Homo sapiens: one gene and its partners. The protein of the gene in region 2 purifies or fractionates together with the protein of the main gene of each other region. This does not show direct contact. Each region holds a gene or a part of one and is shown on either strand. Other genes may lie near its edges. The genes, in order: VEZT, SLC12A5, KIF2A, CUX1, NUP155 and CXADR.

Region 1 (3,500 bases), on a different chromosome or scaffold from region 2:
TTTCTTTCTTTCCTATTACGTAAAATTTGCTTTGGCTTATTCCTACTCCCCTTCTAACCCATCTCAATAAATGGCACCACAAAAAACCTGGACACCATCTTTCTTGTCCCTCTTTTTGCCCACTCACATCCAGTCTGTTAGCAGATTCTTATGTCACTTCTACCTTGAAAATGTATTTTAAACCCATCCACTTTTTTCTATATCCACCCCCGCCCCCGCACCATCCTAGTCCCAGCCACCATGCTAGTCCCAGCCACCATCATTTCATACTTAGGCTGCTGCAGTACTTTCCTCAGTTATCTAAAGTTATTTGTTTCAGAATGCAACTTGACATGTAAAGAACCTTTTTAATGATTTATCCTTTGAATTTGTAATTCCCCTTCTACAAACTGCAGGAAATTATTTAAAACATAGTTAAACTTTATATACCAAGCTGCTTATTCACTTTGTGTTTATAATAGTGCACAATGGAACACTGCCTGAAAGTTCAAAAATAGAGGAATGGCTGTGTGAGTCATGCCAGAGCCACATGGTGAACCATTGTGTAGCAGCTACAGCTTGCCCGTGAAAATTCTGTAAAAACTTGGAGAAACATCTGTTGCCAGTGAAACAATCAGGATACATAAGTGTATATGCAATATGTCCACAACCCTGTTTAAAAAAAAAAATGAGGAGAAAATACCAAGATATATATAGCTACTCTTTGGGGTGGTGGGACTATAGATACTTTCACACCCTTTCGAATTTAATATCCTAACCTTGCTTTATTCTTTAAGGAAAATAAAGATTTTTTTCAAAGTACAATTTAAGAGATTCTTAATGTGGAAAATGGAGCAGACCTGTGTTTATATTTTAGCCCTGACTGACTAGCCATTTGCCTTTGAATAAGTTATTCTTTGAACTTATGTCACCTGTGAAAAGGAGTTACCATCCCTGCCTTATAAGGTATTAGATTAAATGAGAAGACATATTAAATACCTAGAACAGGGCTTGACATATAATGGGTACCCCCAAATGGTAATAGCTGTTATTCTTTAAGAAGGACTTGGAGAAAGAATTATAGTATTTCATTTCCTTTTAAATTACTTTTTGTTAACTCATCAAGATGCCTTGGAGATTTATTTCTTTATGCTGTTGATGTACTGTTTTTAAAAGCTTATTAAATCCTGAATTGTACTCTAGCTTAAGTATAGGCAGCAAAGAGAAGTTGTGGACCCTGTGGAGTCAGATTTTCCAGGTTTCACTCTAGCTCCGTTATTTGACTACTGTGTGGTCCTGAGCAAATCATTGTTTCTGTGTTTATTAAAATGGGATAATTGCAATGCTTGCCTCCAAAGGATTAGATGTTTGTCAGTTCAGTGCCTGGTGTAGAGTAAGCAATTAATGAATGTTAGCTGATTTTTAAAATTCTATCTGATATGGCCTGCTCTGAAATGTGAGACTTGTTCTCTGTTGCTGTATCCCCATCCTACCTTCCAACAATGGTGATTATAGCTAGATTCCTTTTGCTCACTCACAGTGTTTTACAAATCAAACTATAATAGTATTTTTATATTTCTTTTATTTTTACATATAACTAACCTGTAACCAAACTCAATGATTGTGTTACAGTTACCACATTTATCAGGCTCTGAAAGGAGCCTTATCTTGAGGAGCTCTATAGACTTTGCAAACTGTTGAAAACCCCTGTAATGTTCAAAGACTGTGTATTACCCCCTTCTGTAGTTACCACTGTATCGTTATTCAGATAAGAAATTTAAAAATAGATTTTGTAAGTTAAATTTTTAAAAGTGTGTTGCCCCCTCTAAAGAAAATACATTTTGGATTTATTTTTTATTGTTCCCGTATCTTCCCTCAGGAAAGTTTAGTGATAGTAAGTATTGCACCTTTAGAAAGAAAAGCAACCTCCAAATTGTAGCCTGAGGAGACATAAATAAAATACAGGTTGAATATTTCTTATCCAGGCGTGAGTCTTATCCAGGCCTGGCACCGTGGCTCACGCCTGTAATCCCAGCACTCTGGGAGGCCAAGGCGGGCGGATCAACTGAGGTTGGGAGTTTGCAACCAGCCTGACCAACATGGAGATACCCCGTCTCTACTAAAAATACAAAAAATTAGCCAGGTGTGGTGGTGCATGCCTGTAATCCCAGCTACTCGGGAGGCTGAGGCAGGAGAATCGCTTGAACCCAGGAGGCGGAAGTTGTGGTGAGCCAAGATCGTGCCATTGCACTCCAGCCTGGGCAACAAGAGCGAAACTCCGTCTCAACATAAATAAATAAATTAATTGATTAATTAATTTCTTATCCAAAATGCTTGAGACTAGAAGTGTTTTGGATTTTGGATTTTTTCAGATTTTGGAATATTTGCATTACACATTGAGGTTGAGCATCCCTAATCCAAAAATTTGAAATTTGAAATGTTCCAGTGAGCATTTCCTTTGACTGCCATGTTGGTGCTCAAAAAGTTTCAAATTTTGGAGCATTTGGGATTTCATTTCAAAGTTTTGGATTAGGGATACTCAATCAGTCCCTAGAACACAGTCCTTATCCCTCTCTTTTCCTTTAAGTTTTTAACTAGTTTTTTAAATTTATGAAGTCATCTGTTTCCTGCTCTAGAAAAAATAAATGCACACATTGTGAAATGCTTTAAATCAAAATTTTCTGTTTACCTATCAGCTATGGTTATCTCCTTATCCAGAGGAGCTTTCCTTATCCAAAGAACAAACAGGAAAAAAGAAATACATATTTCTGAGTTCTGGTTTAAGTGGGTAATGTGACAGTGATTGGATGACAAATTAGTCTTTAGAGACAAGGTCTTGCTCAGTCACACAGCTGGTGTGCAGTGGTGCAATCGTGGCTCACTGTAACCCTGAACTCCTGGGCTCAAGCGATCCTCCCACCCTAGCCTCCCAAGTAGCTGGAACAACAGTTATGTGCCACCATGCCTGACTAATTTTTAAGAAAATATTTTGTAGAGGCAGGGGTCTCACTGTGTTTCCCAGGCTGGTCTCCCAACTACTGGCCTCAAGTGAGCCTCCCAAAGTGCTGGGATTACAGGTGGGAGCCACTGCGCCTGGCCTTTAGTCTTTTCAAAAGCCGCAGTAAACTGTACCAACTTGATTCTTGCAGTTATCTTGACCCAACATGCTGGAATCATCCTTGTTAACTCTTTTTCTCTCAATACCAATCAGTCAAGAGATTGTGTTAGTTCTGCTTTCACAATGTATCCAGAGTCCATCTGCTGCTCACCTTCCACCACTAACCACCGTGGTCTCATTAATGCTTACCTGGAATATTGCAGTAACTTCCTTACTGGTTTCTCCACTTCTACTCTCATTTTCCTATAATCTCTCAACTCAGCAGACAGTATGGGCCTGTTAACGCATAAATCAGATTATGTCATGCTTCTGCTCAGAACCCTTCAGTGGCTCCCCATTGCTTACCTGGCCCCAGCCGTACTGAGCTTCTTGCTGTTCCATAGATCTACCCTGTGTGCTCCCA
Region 2 (3,500 bases):
TTCCCCGCCTTCAGCTGGGAGGTCAGTGAGAGCAGCTGGGGGTGCACCACATTCTGGTCTTGGTCCACACGCACCAGCACCAGCAGCTGTGGCCTGAAGAGTGTGCAGAGTCACATAATCCATATACCATGTAACCAACCATCCACACACCATACACCCACCACCAGGTCATCTAGCCATCTCTCCTCTATAACCATCTGTCCCATCCACCTATACCCCTCACCACCCATCCATTCATCTACCCATCAACCCATTTCTCCATTCACCTCACTCACCTATCTACCCATTCAACCACCCACCCACCTATTTTATCCTTCAGTCATCCACTCATATGCATATTTCTTTACTGATACATGCATTATTCATTCAATTATCCACACATCTACCTACCTATCATCCATTCCTACATCCATCGATTCATGCTTTTGCCCGCCCACGTGTACATAAACTTATCCATCTACCCATCTATTTATGCATCCCTTTCCTTAGTCATTTAGCCGTCTTAGTCCTCCAACCACCTATCAACTTCGTAGCATTCTCTAAGCACCTACTCTGGGCTAGACCATGTGCTGAGCATTTGGGAATTCACAGATAAATAATATAGAGCCCCAGGTTCTGGGAGCCCAGTTTAGTCAACTGGGCTCAGCCAAGACAAGTCAACAATGCCCTAACCTAAGTCAGGGTTTCAGGCTCTACTCTTGGCAAGGTGAAACACAGGGAGATGAGTGAGGGGTTGGGCATGCAGCACCCAGGGCTAAGAGGTGGGGTGTGAGGATTCCATCTCCAGGTCTGCCTTCTGTGACCTGTGAGATCCTCTCTGACCTCCAATTTCCCCCTTTTTTTTTTTGAGACAGGGTCTCACTCTGTCACCCAGGCTGGAGTGCAGTGGTACAATCTCGGCTCACTATAACCTCTGCCTCCTGGGTTCAAGCTATTCTGCCTCAGTATCCTGAGTAGCTGGGACTACAGGTGCACGCCACCATGCCTGGCTAATTTTTGTATTTTTAGCACAGATGGGGTCTCGCCATGTTGTCCAGGCTTGTCTCAAACCCCTGGCCTCAAGTGATCCACCTGCCTCAGCCTCCCAAACTGTTGGGTTACAGGCATGAGCCACCGCGCTCGGCATCCCTGATTTTCACGTGAATAAAATGGATGAATTGTCATTAATCTAGAGATGCCTAAGAGCCCCTATAACTCTCAAAGGGAACGATTCCACCTGTCTCAGAGCAAATGCTACATGATCTGATGTTTGTCTGTCCCCATGTGTGTCTTCTCCACAAAACTGTGAGCTTCCTACATCCCCAGAGACTAGAAGGGGACTTGCCATACATCAGGCATTCATGTTTTATGAAAAAATGATGGAAATGATGAAATGAATGAATGGATGACTGCTCAGGAGGCTAGCATGGTGGGGTATGTGGACATTTACATACCCACATAAATGTCTGGAACTCAGCTCAGCCTCAGTGTTTCAGGTGGGAAGGAATCAGACAAGGCTGGGCTTTTAGGGCACGACTCAGCAAAACAAAGCAAGCAGGATAAGTCAGGCCCTGCTCCCTTCCCCCTGTCTCCTGAGCCTTGCACTCATGCACACACACTCTTATGCACACCCGTGCCCTCACCACTAACCTCCAGTTCTTGGTGTGTGGGGGCCCTTCCTCCAGGCGTAAGAGGGCATAGCGAGCCGCACTGAGAGACAGACCTCGTATCCCATCGCCCCACTCCTTCTCTGCCCTGGGAGCCGGGAAGTGGATCACATGAGAGCAGAAAGCCAGGAGGGGGCAGGGAGAACCATCTACACTGCACCAGCTACCCCAGGGCAGAGCCATCTCTCAGGCTCAGAAAGGACATGTGTATCACTCCTGCCAACAGACTCAACCAAGCCTTGGCTAAGTTTCCTTGGAAAATCACTTCTAAATCCATTCTCTCACCATTCCTGTCCATTTCTCAAAGCCTCTGCTCCCACCCCCCATCTTCCAATGTCATCCCATATCACCCTCTCCCTCTACTCCAGCCCCATCCTCTCCCACTCCCTGCTTCATCTCACCCCCACCACCCCAATCCCTCATGACCCCTTCCCTCTCCTTCCCACCACCCTTCAGCCTTCCCCAGCCACCCCAACCTCCACTCCCCACACTCACCCACGGTACTCAATGTACTTGTAGATGAGTCCAGCAATGAGCATGGCTACCAGTGCATAATACCAGGAGCAGATGAACATGAGGGCCAGGCAGAGGCTCATGCCCAGGAAGGAGAGGGTCCTAGACAAGGTGGGGAGACCCAGCCTCTGAGCCCCAGCAGGGCTGTTGCTGAAGCTGGGACTTAGAAAGCAAGAGGGAGATGGGGCAGGGCATGGGCAAGACCTGGGAGGTGACAGCCCGGTCTAGGGGAACTCACACCATCATCCCCATGAGGACTACGGGGATATGGGATCTTCTGGGTGAAAGAGAAGCCACAGACAGGGCACTACCCAATGCCCTGCCCAACTCCTGACACCCCACACCACCCTGTCCCTGTTCCTCAGACCCTGCCAGACAGGCCTGGCCAGGTGCATTCTGAGGCCAGGGTCTCAGGGGAGTGGAAACGGGTCCTCCCAGGAGAAGGCCACCAGCAAAGCCGGAGCATCCAGACAGGAGTGGGCAGCCCTGGTTCTAGCCCAGTTGTGTCACAGTCTTGCTGGGGGACCTTGGGCCGGTCCCTTGCCCTCTTTGGGCCTCAGTTTCCTTTTGTAGGACAAGCATGATCATTTCTGCTCTGTCTGCCCCCGAGGGCCTATTGTGAGGATGAAGAGCCATAGAGGAAAATGATGAGAGAACTACAGCCTCTGTGCAATGAGCATCTGCCATGTACTGTAGTCCTCACAAGAACCCACAGGCAGGTGCAGCTATCATGCCCATTTCACAGCTGAGGAAACTGAGGTTCTGAGAAGCTACATCATCAGCCCAAGATCTCACAGCTAGGAAGTGCAGAGTCATGATTTGAACTCTGGCCAGCTGACTTCCAGCCTCCCTGCTACATTGTGAGCTATTGGGCATCACGGACAGGAGAGAGATTCCAGCTGAGACCGCTTATGATGCTGCTATGTTATTATTTATGATTGTTAGGAGACCCTCTCGGGGACCTTCCTCATGTGAGTTGGTCAACAAAAGCTGGAGAAAAAAGGATGTCCTCTTCAGGTTTGGGGTCCTTAGACCCAGAGGGGATGGACTGGAGTAAGATGAGGATTGGCGTGGAGGTGAGCAAGTGGCTCAGTGGAAGTGTGGGGACAGAGCACCCACCAGTGGTAATATCGAAAGCGTGGCCTCCAGTTGGGTGTCCTCAGCAGCGTCTGCACTGCACAGGCCAGATTCACAAACATGTAGCACATCAGGAAGAACCTGGAACACAGGAAGGCCCCAGGGGAGACAGAGATGCAAAGGGAGGCAGAAACAGAAACAACAGCATGGGCAGAGAAAGGGGGAAAGGGGACAGGAAGTCAGGAGGTGGCCAGATCATGCTGT
Region 3 (3,500 bases), on a different chromosome or scaffold from region 2:
TTCACTTAGCACTATAAAACCACTAATATTGCTTTATCTAAAAGAGCTGGAAGACAACTTAACCTGTATTTGTTCTACAACTGAACCAGAAGAATAAAAATTAGTTTTATCCAAGGTTTAAAACTTGTATCTATTCTTAAGAATCGTAATCTCAAAACAAACAAACAAATAAACAAACACCTTAAAATTATTTTAGGTTACAAAACAGATGTGTTAAAATTAAAGCAGATGGCTGAATCCAAGAATTAAACTTTGCAAAAGATTAATGTCATATTAATCACAACTATACTTCTGACTAGAAAGAACGGGGTCTAGATGATCTCTCAGGGAATCTTGTTCTGGATTTTCCACACTCTTGCCCCTTGTCTTATTTGAGCAGACACAGATTTAACTGGCTCTTTGCTGTTTTCTCTAGCATTTTAACAATCATGACACATAAAACAAGTTGACACATAGCCTTTCCCCAGAGTTTCAAAATCTTTGTCATAAGAATCAAGTGGCTAGGCAATGAATACAGATTCCTGGCTTTCTGTGGTACTTTTGGAAGCAATAAGTGCCTATTTTAAGTTTTTTGAGCTTCTTTGGTAGTAGTGGAAAGAATTTTACTACAGGGGTTTGTATGTCTCAGAAAGAAATACTAAAGTATACAACTTCACACCATAATCAGCAAACATCTGTCAGCAGCACTTAGAGAGCTGGGAGTGAAGGGATTCGGGCTTTGGCCCAGGCTATGCTCCTTATTAACCATGTGATCTTGGCAAATAATCCAACCTCAGATTCTTCACCTATAAACCAATAATCTGCCACCTTTCTATCCTGCTTACCTCATAGAGTTCCTGTGAAGATCCAATTAGCTAACATGTCTTGAAGCACTTGGAAAACTATTAAGCCCTAACAAATCCATATACAGAAACATTATCGTCCTAGTCCTCAGGGAAAAGGGAACTATTAGGTCACAAATGCCCCTATTCCATCCCACCCCCATAATCAATCACATAATTGTACCTAAAGAACAACTGTATTGCCACATGGTTCATCTTTATTACTTAAATTTACACATGCTATTCTCCAGAAGCCTATATAGTGACGTGTAAAGATGAACTAGCAGAAGAAAAATGTGGCAAAGCATATAAAGAATTAGGCCATTTAAAATCTTTTCTAAAGATTTTCTTTGCCTGCCCTGAACTCCAAAATTCCTGATGGGTCCTTTGAAATCTTCAATTGCCTCTTGATTTCAGATGTTAAAAGGAACTCTTTACACCAATACTTAACTAAGAAACAAGAATACTTTCCTCCCACAATTTTAGGTTTGGTGAACTTGTAGTAACATAGCACTTCTTACCAGGGATCATTCTAATCAAGCTCTGTAACACTGCTCGCTGGTGCCTTTCTCCGAAGTAAGAAGCAATTTCCTACATCTTGACTGGGCTGTAAAAAGCGGTATACGGTTCCAAAATAACAGAGAATTCCTCCTTTACTGTCATAGTTCTTGATAGTCTGATTTCTATGCTAAGCATGTCAGGTTCCTGGCTGCCATTGACAAGTTGTATGAATCTAGATAAGTCACTTATGGTGATCTGGGACTCAAGTTTCCACATTTATAAAAATGAAAACTAGTTTATCTCCAAAAACCTTTCTGGTGGAAATATTCTAAGATTCTCTTCAGATTACATGTATCAATACAGTCACAGTACTGTGACTAAGAGACCCGCCCCCAAAGAACAATCCCATATTAGCTGCAGCTTCCAAATGTTCAACATTTCCCATTTCTTCCCCAGTCCCCAAAGGGTAGTCACAGCTACTACAGAACTGTTAACAGCACAGCTAAAAGAAAAAAAAAACCAAACTAGCTACACGACAGAAAGATTGTAGGTTTTTTTAAGAGTCAGTGGGTTTTAAAAAGGGAAAGGAATTGAATCAGAAAAATAGGAAGACACATGTAAGAAAACACACCAGTCCAATTTCATACCAGGTTATCTCCTGTGGCAGAGAATAATCTTAGCAGTCCAAGCCTAACCCCTGTCACTGATAACCTTAGAAAACCAGAAAAGTCAGATTAACCTTAGCAGATCACTCAATTTCAATTAACGCTGTAGTTCCTGACTAACAGGCCAGCGGGAAGTAGAGGGCCAGAGTAGGGAGGTAGCAGTACAGAGGAGCACAGATGGAAGGTTTCACTTCCAGCTAAGATGTCATTCTAATGATTAATTAAAATGTTTGAAAACAAAAAATCCAATAATGTATGATTTATTCAAAAACGATGTGCAAGGAATTTTGCTAGACATCCCAGTAGTGGGGGTGGGAATGGGGGTAATGACACAGATGCATTCAGGGAATTTAAGAGTCATTAGAGGCTGGGCACAGTGGTTCACACCTGTAATCCCAGTACTTTGGGAGGCTGAGGTGGGTGGATCACTTGAGGCCAGGAGTTCGAGACCAGCCTGGCCAACGTGGCAAAAACCTGTCACTACTAAAAATACAAAAATTAGCCGGGCATGGTGGCACACACCTGTAGTCCCAGCTACTTGGGAGGCTGAGGCATAAGAATCGCTTGAACCTGGGAGGCAGAGGTTGTAGTGAGCGGAGATCGCACCACTGACAGAGCGAGACTCTGTCTCAAAAAAAAAAAAAAAAAGAATTATTAGTTATTAGTAAGTCCCATTACCCCATGCAGTTTAAAAACATAGTATTAAGAATATGTACCCATAGGTATGAGCTGAGAGGAGTGGAAAAAAAAAAGTTACAGACCCAAACATTAATACTTAAGGAAATATGCTGTCTCATGAATAATACAGAATGATTTAGGAATTCAGATGCTGACTGGCCATCTGGTTTTAGTAATCAGTGAAGACTCATTAGGATAGTTTTCATCATGGTCTTGAAAGATAGGAATAAGCTCATTTTAGTGTACCTGTTTGCCCTTGGGATATGTTTATTAGTGTAAGAGTATCACTGATGGGAAAAGTGTGGTCTGAAATAGGGACATGGATCGCCATCAGCAAGCCAAAAGAAAAACATCAAGTCACCAGTTAATAATGGTCTGAAGCAGCCCTTCTTTACTCATGTCATTTCTACTGTCTCAGATATTAGTGTTCCTCCAACTGCAAAGTTTATTTTTGTTATAATAACCACTAGTGTTTTATCCAATATAGACGTTATGGAAGTGAGAGGAAGCAAACAAGCTTCTTTAAAGTGAAAAAGGGAAAGCTTGAGGGGCATTCTCCCAGACATCAATTTCTATTGTGAAACACTACTGTCCAATGCAAATGATCCTTCTGTTCTTTCGAAGTTCTCTACTAATCTCCTGCCTTCCACCAACTCCATCATGCATCTGAGGCACATAAAAAGATACATGACCATAGGTTAGGATAATAACACACTGTGATGACTTCCCTAATTTCTTATAGGCAAACCGCTTTTGAAATGTGGCTTTAGGTTAGTAGCACTTATGTAAGAACACAAAGCTCTTGTATGTCTGGGAACTTCTGGTATAGGCTGAA
Region 4 (3,500 bases), on a different chromosome or scaffold from region 2:
TTTTTTTTTGCCAGCCACAAAGATGTTGGCTGTCTTCTGGGCATCAGGAGTCAGATTCCACTTAGGATGTCAATTTTATTTGATTTGATTTTTTAATTTTTTGAGATGGAGTCTCACTCTGTCGCCCAGGCTGGAGTGCAGTGGCATGATCTTGGCTCACTGTACCCTCTGGCTCCTGGGTTCAAGTGATTCTCCTTCCTCAGCCTCCCAAGTAGCTGGGATTACAGACGTGCGCCACCACGCTCAGCTAATTTTTTATATTTTTGGCAGAGATAGGGTTTCACCATATTGGCCAGGCTGGTCTCAAATGCCTGACCTCAAGTGATCCACCTACCTCAGCCTCCCAAAGTGCTGGGATTACAGGAGTGAGCCACCATGCTTGGTCTGGGATGTCAATTTTAATTGGCCACCAGATGACCCTGGGCCACAGTCATCCTTCCCTTGTACCTTCTCTACTGAGGCAGCATGTAACTAAAGTTCCTAAACCAATCCATTTTTGGCTGCTCTTTAATGCAATTAAAAAAAAAATAGTCAGTCTCAATCTGTTGTCCAGGCTGGAGTGCAGTGGTGCGATCATAGCTCACTATAGCCTTGAACTACTGGGCTCAAGCGATCTTCCTGCCTCAGCCTCCCAAGTAGCTGGGACCACGGGTATATGTCACAGTACTTGGCTATTTTTTTTTTTTTTAATAGCAACATGGTCTTGCTATATTGCCCAGGCTGGTCTCAAATTCCTGGCCTCAAAGCGATCCTCCTGTCTTGGCCTCCCAAAGTGCTGGGATTACAGGCATGAGCTACTGAGCCTGGCCTTCTTAAACACAATCTGAAATTGTTTTTTATTTATGTTCTTAGTACCTGCTGAAGTGAAATCACAATTTCACTTCAGTTACCAGTTTGGAAAACACTAGCTTTTCTCTTTTTGCCTCTTTTTGTTAAAGATAATTTGCTTTTTGGTAGTGCCCATCTCCTATCAGTCAGGGATGAAGCAATCCCTTGTTCATCCCCAGCTTGGCTTTTGATCTATGCCTGGTTCATGCCTTGGACACATGGAAAAAAAGGAGACAAAAAAAAAAAGATAATTTGCTTCAACTTGGTTAAATGTTCTTGAAGTATGACTCATCGGCTGTAAGTGAGAGGTCTCGTAGAAACAGTGGATCATGGGATATGCCGGAGGGACCAGTGGTAACCAGCAGCGGGGCTGATGCTAGTGCTGACCATTGAGGTGAGACACGTACCTGTGTCCCAGCGCCCTCGGACGGTGCAAACTCCATGGACTTCAGAATGCTGCAAGAGCACAACAGAGGGGTTATTTTATTTATTTTTTGAGACAGAGTCTCGTTCTGTCACCCAGGCTAGAGTGCAGTGGCGCGATATTGGCTCACTGCAACCTCTGCCCAGGTTCAAGCGATTCTCCTACCTCAGCCTCCCGAGTAGCTGGGATTACAGGCATGTGCCATCATGCCCAGCTAATTTTTGTATTTCTAGTAGAGACGGGGTTTCACCACGTTGGCCAGGCTAGTCTCGAACTCCTGACCTCAAGTGATCCACCCGCCTCAGCCTCCCAAAGTGTTGGTATTACAGGCATGAGCCACCAGAGTGATTATTTTCTACTTATACCTTTGACAACAGCCACATTAATAAGCATTAACATTACAATTTCCTGCTCTCCAGGAACCGAAGAACTGTCAACTTTAACAACTTCCCTGGCAGTAATAGAATCTGATAATGTCTCTAGAATAACTATTCAACTAGCAGTTGGCTGGCAAAAGTTTCTTGCCTAGCATGTAAATCATTCCATATGGAATCACACCAGGTCTGTTCAGAGTATAATTTTAAAGTTTAATACAGACATAACATTGTTGCAAGTGGAATGTATTTGTAAAGCTTAAAGGGAAGGAAAAAGTTGTAAGGAGAAGCCAGAGAGAGGGGAACCCACCAGGGCGGCCACTGCCCACACCTCACTCCTAACTGGCACCTACCTGGGGACCAGGGGACATAGGCAAAGAGCAACCTCCTAGACTTGGATGACTCAGAAGCCAGGTGGGCAGACCTTCTCTGCAGCCCCAGGTTGGGGAAGGAGTGCAATGACAAAGATGTGGCAAGAGAAGGTGACTTCTCCCTCCCTTGTTCTCAATGGCACTGAAAAGGGCCGCACCCTGATCACTACGGTCTCTGGGCTGTCTCAGTGAGTCCAGGTCCCCAGGATTATTACTGTTTCTTGAGTTCCTTTTGCTGTGGATGTCCCTTTTTTGCTGAGTTTACCAGGGAGAAGAGGGGAAGTGAGGCTATGTGGCTTTGAAGGAGCTGCAAGTGTTTCTTTGAAATACCAAGGATGGAAGAGAGAGACCCAGAGCAGGCTGGCTGGACCGTGAGATTTACGACTCGCAGGTGCAGAGTCAACCGGACCTTCGCCATGTTCCTGCAGCCACAATTTCGGCCTCTGTCCCCCTAGTGTGAGCCACCACACCTGGATAATTTATTTTTAGTAGAGACGGTTTTGGCCAAGCTGGTTTCCTGACCTCAGGTGATCTGTCGGCCTCCCAAAGTGCTGGGATTACAGATGTGAGCCACTGCGCCCAGCTGAAAGGGGTTTCTTAAGATGGAATCCTGTCCTTCGTTTCCTATTTTCTTTAGGATTATGTAATAAAAGACCACGTGGCTCTTTATCTATTCTACAGATCTTTACCAGCAGCCTGCTATCCGCTTGTTGCCGTGGGGAATCAGAACCACTCCTGGTCCGTACTCCAGGAAATTTACAGGCCATTACAGGTAATAGGCAAGACTCCAAGTGGTCCATTAAGACAGAACTTGTGAGGACCCCAGCAGGAGGGATCTTGATGGATTGGAGACCACGTCTCAGTGTCATGATGAACAAGCATTGGAGAAGGGCCCTGAAGGGACAGGGTGTCTTGTGCTGCAGTGCATGAGGATCTGAGGTCAGCATCCCCTGTTGCGTGGGGGTGAGGAAGTGGAAATGGGACGATGCTGAGAAGGGGACGCGGGCAAGAGCTCAAGAGCACAGCTGGTTCACCAGGAAGTGGAAAACTAGGAGCGCATTTGGGCAAAGAAGCCACCTGAGTGGGGCTTCCAGATGTGCACATGGTGGTGGGGCCTGTCATGTGCGGACGCAACAGAAAGAGTTAGCAGAAATGCAGTGACAAGCGGGGCTGGTGTGGCAGCCCTTCAGTGGGGGTAGGGGCAGCCTGTGGTCCGGCAGGCTGTGGATGAGAGGGAGTAGAACGGTATGTGTTGCAGGCTGGAGCCTGGAAGCCTCAGCTCCCAGGGGATGAAGTGAACGTGGGGGTTGGGGGAGAAGAGGAGGAGGAGGAGGAGCAAGAGGAAGAAGAAGAGGAAGAGGAAGAAAGAAGAAGAGGAGGAGGAAGAAAGAAGAAGAGAGGAAGAAAGAAGAAGACAACGAAGACGACAATGAAGACGACGACTAACTCCCAGGGTGAGGCTGGGCAAAGGCCTTCGCAGCAGTTTCTCTGGCTCAAAATTAA
Region 5 (3,500 bases), on a different chromosome or scaffold from region 2:
ATGGCGTGAACCTGGGAGGCAGAGCTTGCAGTGAGCTGAGATCGCACCACTGCACTTCAGCCTGGGTGACAGAGCAAGACTCTGTCTCAAAATAAAAAAAATAAAAAAATAAAAAAATAAAAAATTAGCTGGGCGTGGTGGCGTGCGCCTGTAATACCAGCTACCCGGGAGGCTGAGGCAGGAGAATTGCTGGAACCTGGGAGGCAGAGGATGCAGTGAGCTGAGATCGTGCCACTGCACTCCAGCCTGGCTGACAGAGCGAGACTCTCAAAAAAAAAAAAAAAAAAAAAAAAAAGTACATTTCAAAAAATAGAAAGAACATTACAGCTTCTGCAGGTCAGTGTAGTCATCAAATATTGCAACACAATGATACCACATTCCTACGTCCTTTCACTCGGCCTCTGATGCTGAAAGAAGATTTGCATCTGGAAAGTGGCTTTTCATCATTAGCTTGCTTCATTCATACACTATTGTTTGTCTTTTGAGTTGAGTAAAAGATACAAGAAACATTTTATTTCTCACCTTGTCTATACTGAGCACAAACATTGGAAAGGTCCACTTGATTGCTAATTTTTTGATATTCCTTTAATGATTCCCTTAACATTCTTTCTTTTTCAGTCTTATTTTGAACTTGTCGGGAACGCTGGAGAAGCTCATTTGCCTAGAAGAGGAGATAACAAGAACTTAAAAATATATAAAATCAAGCAGACAGATGATGCTGTCAACTAAGTTTTAGTCTATGTCTAAATTTATATATGGTTATTACCATTAAAATGAAAACAACTCTACAAACTTACTTCTTAATTTTAGGCAGAAAAGTTTTTGACCAAAGATTCCTAGCTATTCTTAATTCCTCTCCCAAATATGTTAAGCAAGAGAACTTTTGTCTGGTAATTCTCTTGCCTAGTCAATACATTATTGGGCAGCAGGCAGTCCATGTGACACTGATTTATTTATTTTTTCCACCTGTAGGAAAGGATCAATAAAAATGCCCCCATTAACTCTAATTCACTAAAAGATTTACTTGAAGTTTTAGTACTTTTCCTTAAGCTAAGGAGATAAATTATCCCCTAAATTTCCTTAATTTCTAAATTTAGTGATTTTTCTTAATTTCTCACCTTTGGTTTTTTAATATGGCCTAGAAACACTATCAAAGATTCTTTATGGGCCAGGCGCAGAGGCTCATGTCTATAATCCCAACACTTTGCAAGGCTGAGGCAGGCGGAGGTCAGGAGTTCAAAACCAGCCTAGACAACATGGTGAAATCCTGTCTCTACCAAAAATATAAAAAATTAGCCAGGTGTGATGGTGCACACCTGTAATCCCAGCTATTTGGGAGGCCGAGGCAGGAGAATCACTTGAACCTGGGAGGTGGAGGTTGCAGTGAGCTGAGATCGTACTCAGTCTTAAAAAAAAAGAGAGAATATTCTTTATGAAAAACTTAAAGGAGGGCTGGGCATGGTGGCTCACACTTATAATCCCAGCACTATGGGAGGCTGAGGCAGGAGGATCACTTGAAGCCAAGAGTTCAAGACCAGCCTGTGCAACAAATCAGAACTTGTCTCTATAAAAAACAAAAAAATTGGCTGGGTGTAGTGGTGCACACCCGTAGCCCCTAGCTACATGAGAGGCCTGCTTGAGTCTAGGACTTAGAAGCTGCTGTGAGCTATGATCACAGCACTGCACTACAGCCTAAGCAACAGAGTGAAACCCTGTGTCAAATAAATAAATAAAAATATTTTTAAAAAGAAAAGCTAAGCTTAAAAGAGTATACACTGGTTTTAAGAAGCCACATATTCCAACCCCTTTCTTAGATGAGGATTCTGAGGCTAGGAGAGGTTAAGAGATCTAACTGACTGAGGTCCTATATTAAGTGAAACAAGATGGTTCATCATACATGATACCTCTTATAACAAACAATGAAATAGGTAATAAAGTATCATACCTTAGAACAAATTGCATCATCAGTGCTATATAGAAGTGGGCAGATATCCTGTAAATGTAAACTAATGCCATCAACAGCGGCATTATCTCTGATGTAGCAGTTGATAAGAGAAGCAATTAATGCCCCTGTGAGTTCTTTGTCCCTGATTACAAGATCTTTAAAGGTGGTGATCTTCAGCTGCTCTTGAAGTTCCTAGGAGCATAAAACTTTTCTATCACAATTATAGAAATACCATATTTCTAAACATAATGAAATTATTTTAATAAATTAAAATAACCTAAATATTAATAGACTCTATAATTGAAAAGCGAAAATATACTAATTAGTAGAAACAAATTTTTGCGAACTTACATAAAATCATAGAGAGTTGGAAAAGAACCTACAGTAGATCTAGTCCAAAACTCTCACTTTCCAAATGAGAAAAGTAAAGCTTAAGTAGAGCCAAAACTAGAGTCAGATCTCCTGGCTTTGGTTATAAAATGGAAAAAACAATCACTTGGCTATATTTGAAAATCTTGGGCTTACATATTACTCCTTCCTAAACACTGTTAGAATTCCATTATTCTAGGCCTTATAATAATATTGGAGTTTAATCTGTATTGTGAACAAATCTGCTTGTCCAAATGAAGCTCTAAAGTATTGATTTATACTATAGTAAAAGATTCTGTTAGTGATGTGACTGCTATCTCTTTTTTCTAAATTCAAGGAAATACCCAAACTGTGTTAAAATTCTTGAACAAATCTTTAATTTGCATTCATTGAGCATGCCATTGGTGATGTAAGGAAGAGAGCTTTGAAGATGGATCACAAAAACATACCCAGGATAAAAACCTACCTACAATATATTTATCACTCTATAAAACTCAAAATTATTATTCTACTTGGTATGAAAAAGATAAGTTTCATAATTAAATATATTAGCTTGAATTTTTAAAAATAAAAAACAGTATGTATTTAAAAGAAACAAAACCACCAACAAAAGCCACACTATTCATTGGACACTAGTGGAAAGAATGAGGAGACTGCCTTCCAACGTTGAAAAATGGTATACGAGAGTCAAAAAGTAAGTGTTTCAGAGTAATGAAATATCCATACAGGACAAGGAAAAAGAATTTTTTTTTTTTTTTTTACAGAATTGCAGCTAGTAACTGGGGAAGGAATCACAGATTTAAAATATTATCCTTTTGGCCGGGCATGGTGGCTCATGCCTGTAATCCCAGCACTTTGGGAGGCCAAGGCAGGTAGATCACCTGACGTCAGGAGTTCAACACCAGCCTGGCCAACATGGCGAAACCCGGTCTCTTACTAAAACTACAAAAATCAGCCAGGCGTTGTGGCACATGCCTGTAGTCCCAGCTACTCGGGAAGCTGAGGCAGGAGAACTGCTTGTACCCGGGAGGTGGAGGTTACAGTGATCTCAGATTGCTCCACAGCACTCCAGCCTGGGTGACAGAATGAGACACTGTCTCAAAAAAAATAAAAAACAAACAAACAAATAAATAAATATTACCCTTTTGTAATCCTAAATGAAATAATAAATTCCAGCAATGATTAT
Region 6 (3,500 bases), on a different chromosome or scaffold from region 2:
ACGAATGCTTTAGAGAAATGACATATATTTGGTATACATCAGTCAACTCCTGTCTCACTTAATTACCTGATATCGTGATGAACTTCCTTTTCATATTTTTCTTCTCTGCGCTTTTTACGACAGCAAAAGATGATAAGACCAATGAGCGCTAGAGCAAGCAAAGTTCCTATAATGGCTCCTGCAATTAGTCCAGCTTTATTTGAAGCTAAAATAAGAAGAATTAATAGTAAAAAATATATACATATATACATGTATAGATACTGAAGGTAGGCTATACATTTTTAGATTGATTTCATCACGTGTTAACTTTAAGACAAATTATTTAGTCTTTTTGATCCGGGGGAAAAATTCATAAAAAGAACTGTCTTCTGAACTGTATAATCTATTCCAAGCATTAAAATGATAAAACCTGTCTGAAAGATTTTAATATTCAAAGCTATCTTGGTTAACATATAAGAATGTTCTAAGCTACTCATACTTATAACAGCTAAATATGGTACAAGGGTTGATTTGACAACTCTTACCTTCTTAATATATCATTGCAATTATGAAGTTTTTTTAATAAAATGTATTTTTCTAGAAAAGCTAATAATCAAACCACAGTGTTCTGATCAAAGTCAGTGTCCCTTTGTCCTTAATACACACTTGCTGACTGAACTAAAGGAGGTGGTATAAAGATAACAGAAACAAAACCACCAACAGAAAGAAGATAACTTACGAGGGACAACGTTTAGACGCAACAGGCACTGATCAGAGCCCACTCTGTTTCTGACTGTACAGCTGTATGTCCCAGAGTACTCAGAAGAGGCATTTTTTACAGATATAACAGATGAAGTCATTTCTATGGAAGGAGGAAAAAGAAAACAAACTCATTTTTATAGTATGTATTGTTATCAGGTGTTAGTAAACATAGTCCTCTCCAAATTAAACAATCCAGTTAAAAGCAAGACAGACCAAGGCTGGATGCAAGCAAACTGGCATTGAGCCACACAGATGTTTCCAGAATTCAATCATGCTTCCAGTTCACATGTATCAAGGTGAAAGTAACCATGATCCCCTGCAGCACACAGCCTCAGCTGGAGCAGGGGTGCTGGTCCACTGTGTACCTGCTGCAAACCCATCTTGGGGCACATAAGACTATAAACGCTACCGCATTCCACAAAGGATCTTTCCTGCAGCAGGAAAACATACAAAACCTATTTTATTCCCCCCTAGATGGAAGAAACATACAAAAGGAAGTCAGAAGAGGACTCCCAGATTGGTCTCTTAGTTTGAAAAACAGAGAGGCAGAGAGAAAACCTACTAAAGACCAGGATGCAGTGGATGGCGGGGTGGAGCCTGGTCATCAGTTTGAACTAAGAAGTCAATTATAACAAATAGGTGAGCAGATTTGGCCAATTTGTAACTTTCTAGTTAGTGTCACACGGGTTTTCTTTTAATTTACAGACACACCATGGGTAAATTACTATATTTTCAATCTAGGCAAAACACTAAAGAGCCAACTCTTACTATACTTTAGCCACCATCTAAGTTGTAATCATGAACATGTCTCATCAATTAAAAAAAAAAAATTCGCCAGGCGCAATGGCCCACACCTATACTTTGGGAGGCTGAGGTGGGTGGAGAGCTTGAGCCCAGGAGTTTGAGACCAGTGTGGGCAACATGCAGAAACTCCATGTCTACAAAAAATACAAAAATTAGCAGGGTGTGGTGACACATGCCTGTAGTCTCAGCTACTCGGGAGGCTGAAGTGGGAGGCTCACTTAAGCCTGGGAGGTGAAGACTGCAGGGAGCCGAGATTCTACCACTGCACGCCCAGCCTGGGTGACAGAGCGAGACCCCTTGTCTCGGAAAAAAAAAAAAAAAAAAAAAACCCAAAAAAAAGTACCAAAGTAACTAATATCCTAAAAAAATGAAATCATAGAATAGCTCTTCATTTATAATATATGACACTAAATTGATATTATAAAACACTGAATAATTCCTATGGAAATCCTGATTATTCTATGTAGAAAAGGGAAAGAAAGCATCTGGGAATCTACAATATACAAGCAGGCTGGGCACATGCCTGGGCTCATGCCTGTAATCCCAGCACTTTGGGAGGCCAAGGAAAGAGGACTCCTTGAGCCCAGGAGTTTGAGACCAGCACAGGCAACGCAGGGAGATCCTGTCTCTACACATTTTTTAAAAAAAAAATTAGCAGGGTGTGATGGCATGCACCTGTAGTTCCAGCTAACTGGGAGGCTGAGGTGGGAGGATGACTTGAGCCTAGGAGGTTGAAGCTTCAGTGAGCCGTGATTGCAGTGAGCCTGGGTGACAGAGCAAGGCCCTATCTCAAATCACACACACACCCCTACTAGATCTTAGTCCAAATCAATGGCATGTGGTACAAATACTATTATCAGCAGTACCTGCTAACCATGAAGTGGGCATTTTCTGTGAGTCAGACAATTTTTGCCACTCATACTGTAATGGAAGTGAACCTTCTTTTGGTTCACATTTTATCTTAAAGTCACTTCCAATTTCTTCAGATCCATCAACGTAACATCTCGCACCTGAAGGCTTAACTGAAAGAGAAAACAAATTATAAATTTACATAAGAGAATGGAACTTACTTTTATGAATACAGCATTGTACACAACCACTGACTCATTATCAGTTGGTTCTGGGTTCAGAATTCACAAAAGAATGAAAGACCACAGTAAGTGATCAACATCAGTTTATTCAGCTTTATCTGACACAAAACAGCAAAGAATAAGCTCAGACAAGCAGCCACTGCATTAGTAGATATGGCAATATCTCAGGCATAGCTCGGTGCCTGTCCATTTCATGGGGCACACCTGAAAAAAAGCAAGAATGATGCACTTGCTTTTTTCAGCAAGACCACTTGAGAGTCAAGGAAGCTCCCCCTCCCATTCCTTAGCTATTCTTCCCCATGCCTGACATGTAACCCTCTGGCAGTATGTACCAAGTCACATCCCTCTAGGCGCCATAACCCTGACAATCAGGCAGTTTATCATCAACAATACTAACAACACTTAGTGTGGCAAGGAACAACTAGCATTCTGCATTTACATCACCTCAAATCCATCCAAAGAGCAGGCTACAAAAAAGAAAACCTGGGCTGGGCATAGTGTAATCTCAGCACTTTGGAGGCCAAGACAGTGGGGGGATCACTTGAGGTCAGGGGTTTGAGACCAGCCTGGGTAACATAGCGAGACTCTGTCATAATAAAAACTTCGAAAAATTAGCTGGGTGTGGTGATGTGTGCCTGTGGTCGTAGCTACTTGGGAGGCTGGGGTAGGAGGATGACTTGAGACCAGGATTTTGAGGCTGCAGTGAAGCTTTGATCATGTCACTGCACTCCAGCCTAGGTGACAGAACCAGACCCTGAATCAAAAAGATATTCACAGCCTGGAAATTCATGTGTAAAAAAGAATATTTAATTAAAAAAAAAAAAAGGAAATCTGAGGTTATATTCCAGGTGTTTCTGGGTAACT

The links.
Region 1: the proteins of SLC12A5 (region 2) and VEZT purify together in Homo sapiens (affinity purification with mass spectrometry; one large-scale study listed by BioGRID and IntAct). This does not show direct contact.
Region 3: the proteins of SLC12A5 (region 2) and KIF2A purify together in Homo sapiens (affinity purification with mass spectrometry; one large-scale study listed by BioGRID and IntAct). This does not show direct contact.
Region 4: the proteins of SLC12A5 (region 2) and CUX1 purify together in Homo sapiens (affinity purification with mass spectrometry; one large-scale study listed by BioGRID and IntAct). This does not show direct contact.
Region 5: the proteins of SLC12A5 (region 2) and NUP155 purify together in Homo sapiens (affinity purification with mass spectrometry; one large-scale study listed by BioGRID and IntAct). This does not show direct contact.
Region 6: the proteins of SLC12A5 (region 2) and CXADR purify together in Homo sapiens (affinity purification with mass spectrometry; one large-scale study listed by BioGRID and IntAct). This does not show direct contact.

Annotation. Positions count from the first base shown.
Region 1 is NC_000012.12:95,276,807-95,280,306, forward strand, and holds part of VEZT (vezatin), read left to right. Parts: intron 1-3,500. UniProt on the Homo sapiens protein: Plays a pivotal role in the establishment of adherens junctions and their maintenance in adult life.
Region 2 is NC_000020.11:46,046,215-46,049,714, reverse strand, and holds part of SLC12A5 (solute carrier family 12 member 5), read right to left. Parts: intron 3,378-3,500; coding exon 3,279-3,377; intron 2,262-3,278; coding exon 2,142-2,261; intron 1,735-2,141; coding exon 1,630-1,734; intron 94-1,629; coding exon 1-93. UniProt on the Homo sapiens protein: Mediates electroneutral potassium-chloride cotransport in mature neurons and is required for neuronal Cl(-) homeostasis.
Region 3 is NC_000005.10:62,309,206-62,312,705, reverse strand, and holds part of KIF2A (kinesin-like protein KIF2A), read right to left. Parts: intron 1-3,500. UniProt on the Homo sapiens protein: Plus end-directed microtubule-dependent motor required for normal brain development. May regulate microtubule dynamics during axonal growth. Required for normal progression through mitosis. Required for normal congress of chromosomes at the metaphase plate.
Region 4 is NC_000007.14:102,191,626-102,195,125, reverse strand, and holds part of CUX1 (Homeobox protein cut-like 1), read right to left. Parts: intron 1,285-3,500; coding exon 1,236-1,284; intron 1,051-1,235; exon of another isoform or gene 921-1,050; intron 1-920. UniProt on the Homo sapiens protein: May be involved in intra-Golgi retrograde transport.
Region 5 is NC_000005.10:37,308,607-37,312,106, forward strand, and holds part of NUP155 (nuclear pore complex protein Nup155), read right to left. Parts: intron 2,138-3,500; coding exon 1,946-2,137; intron 967-1,945; coding exon of another isoform or gene 916-966; exon of another isoform or gene 817-915; intron 662-816; coding exon 523-661; intron 1-522.
Region 6 is NC_000021.9:17,558,043-17,561,542, reverse strand, and holds part of CXADR (coxsackievirus and adenovirus receptor isoform 1 precursor), read right to left. Parts: intron 2,568-3,500; coding exon 2,412-2,567; intron 842-2,411; coding exon 719-841; intron 206-718; coding exon 67-205; intron 1-66. UniProt on the Homo sapiens protein: Component of the epithelial apical junction complex that may function as a homophilic cell adhesion molecule and is essential for tight junction integrity.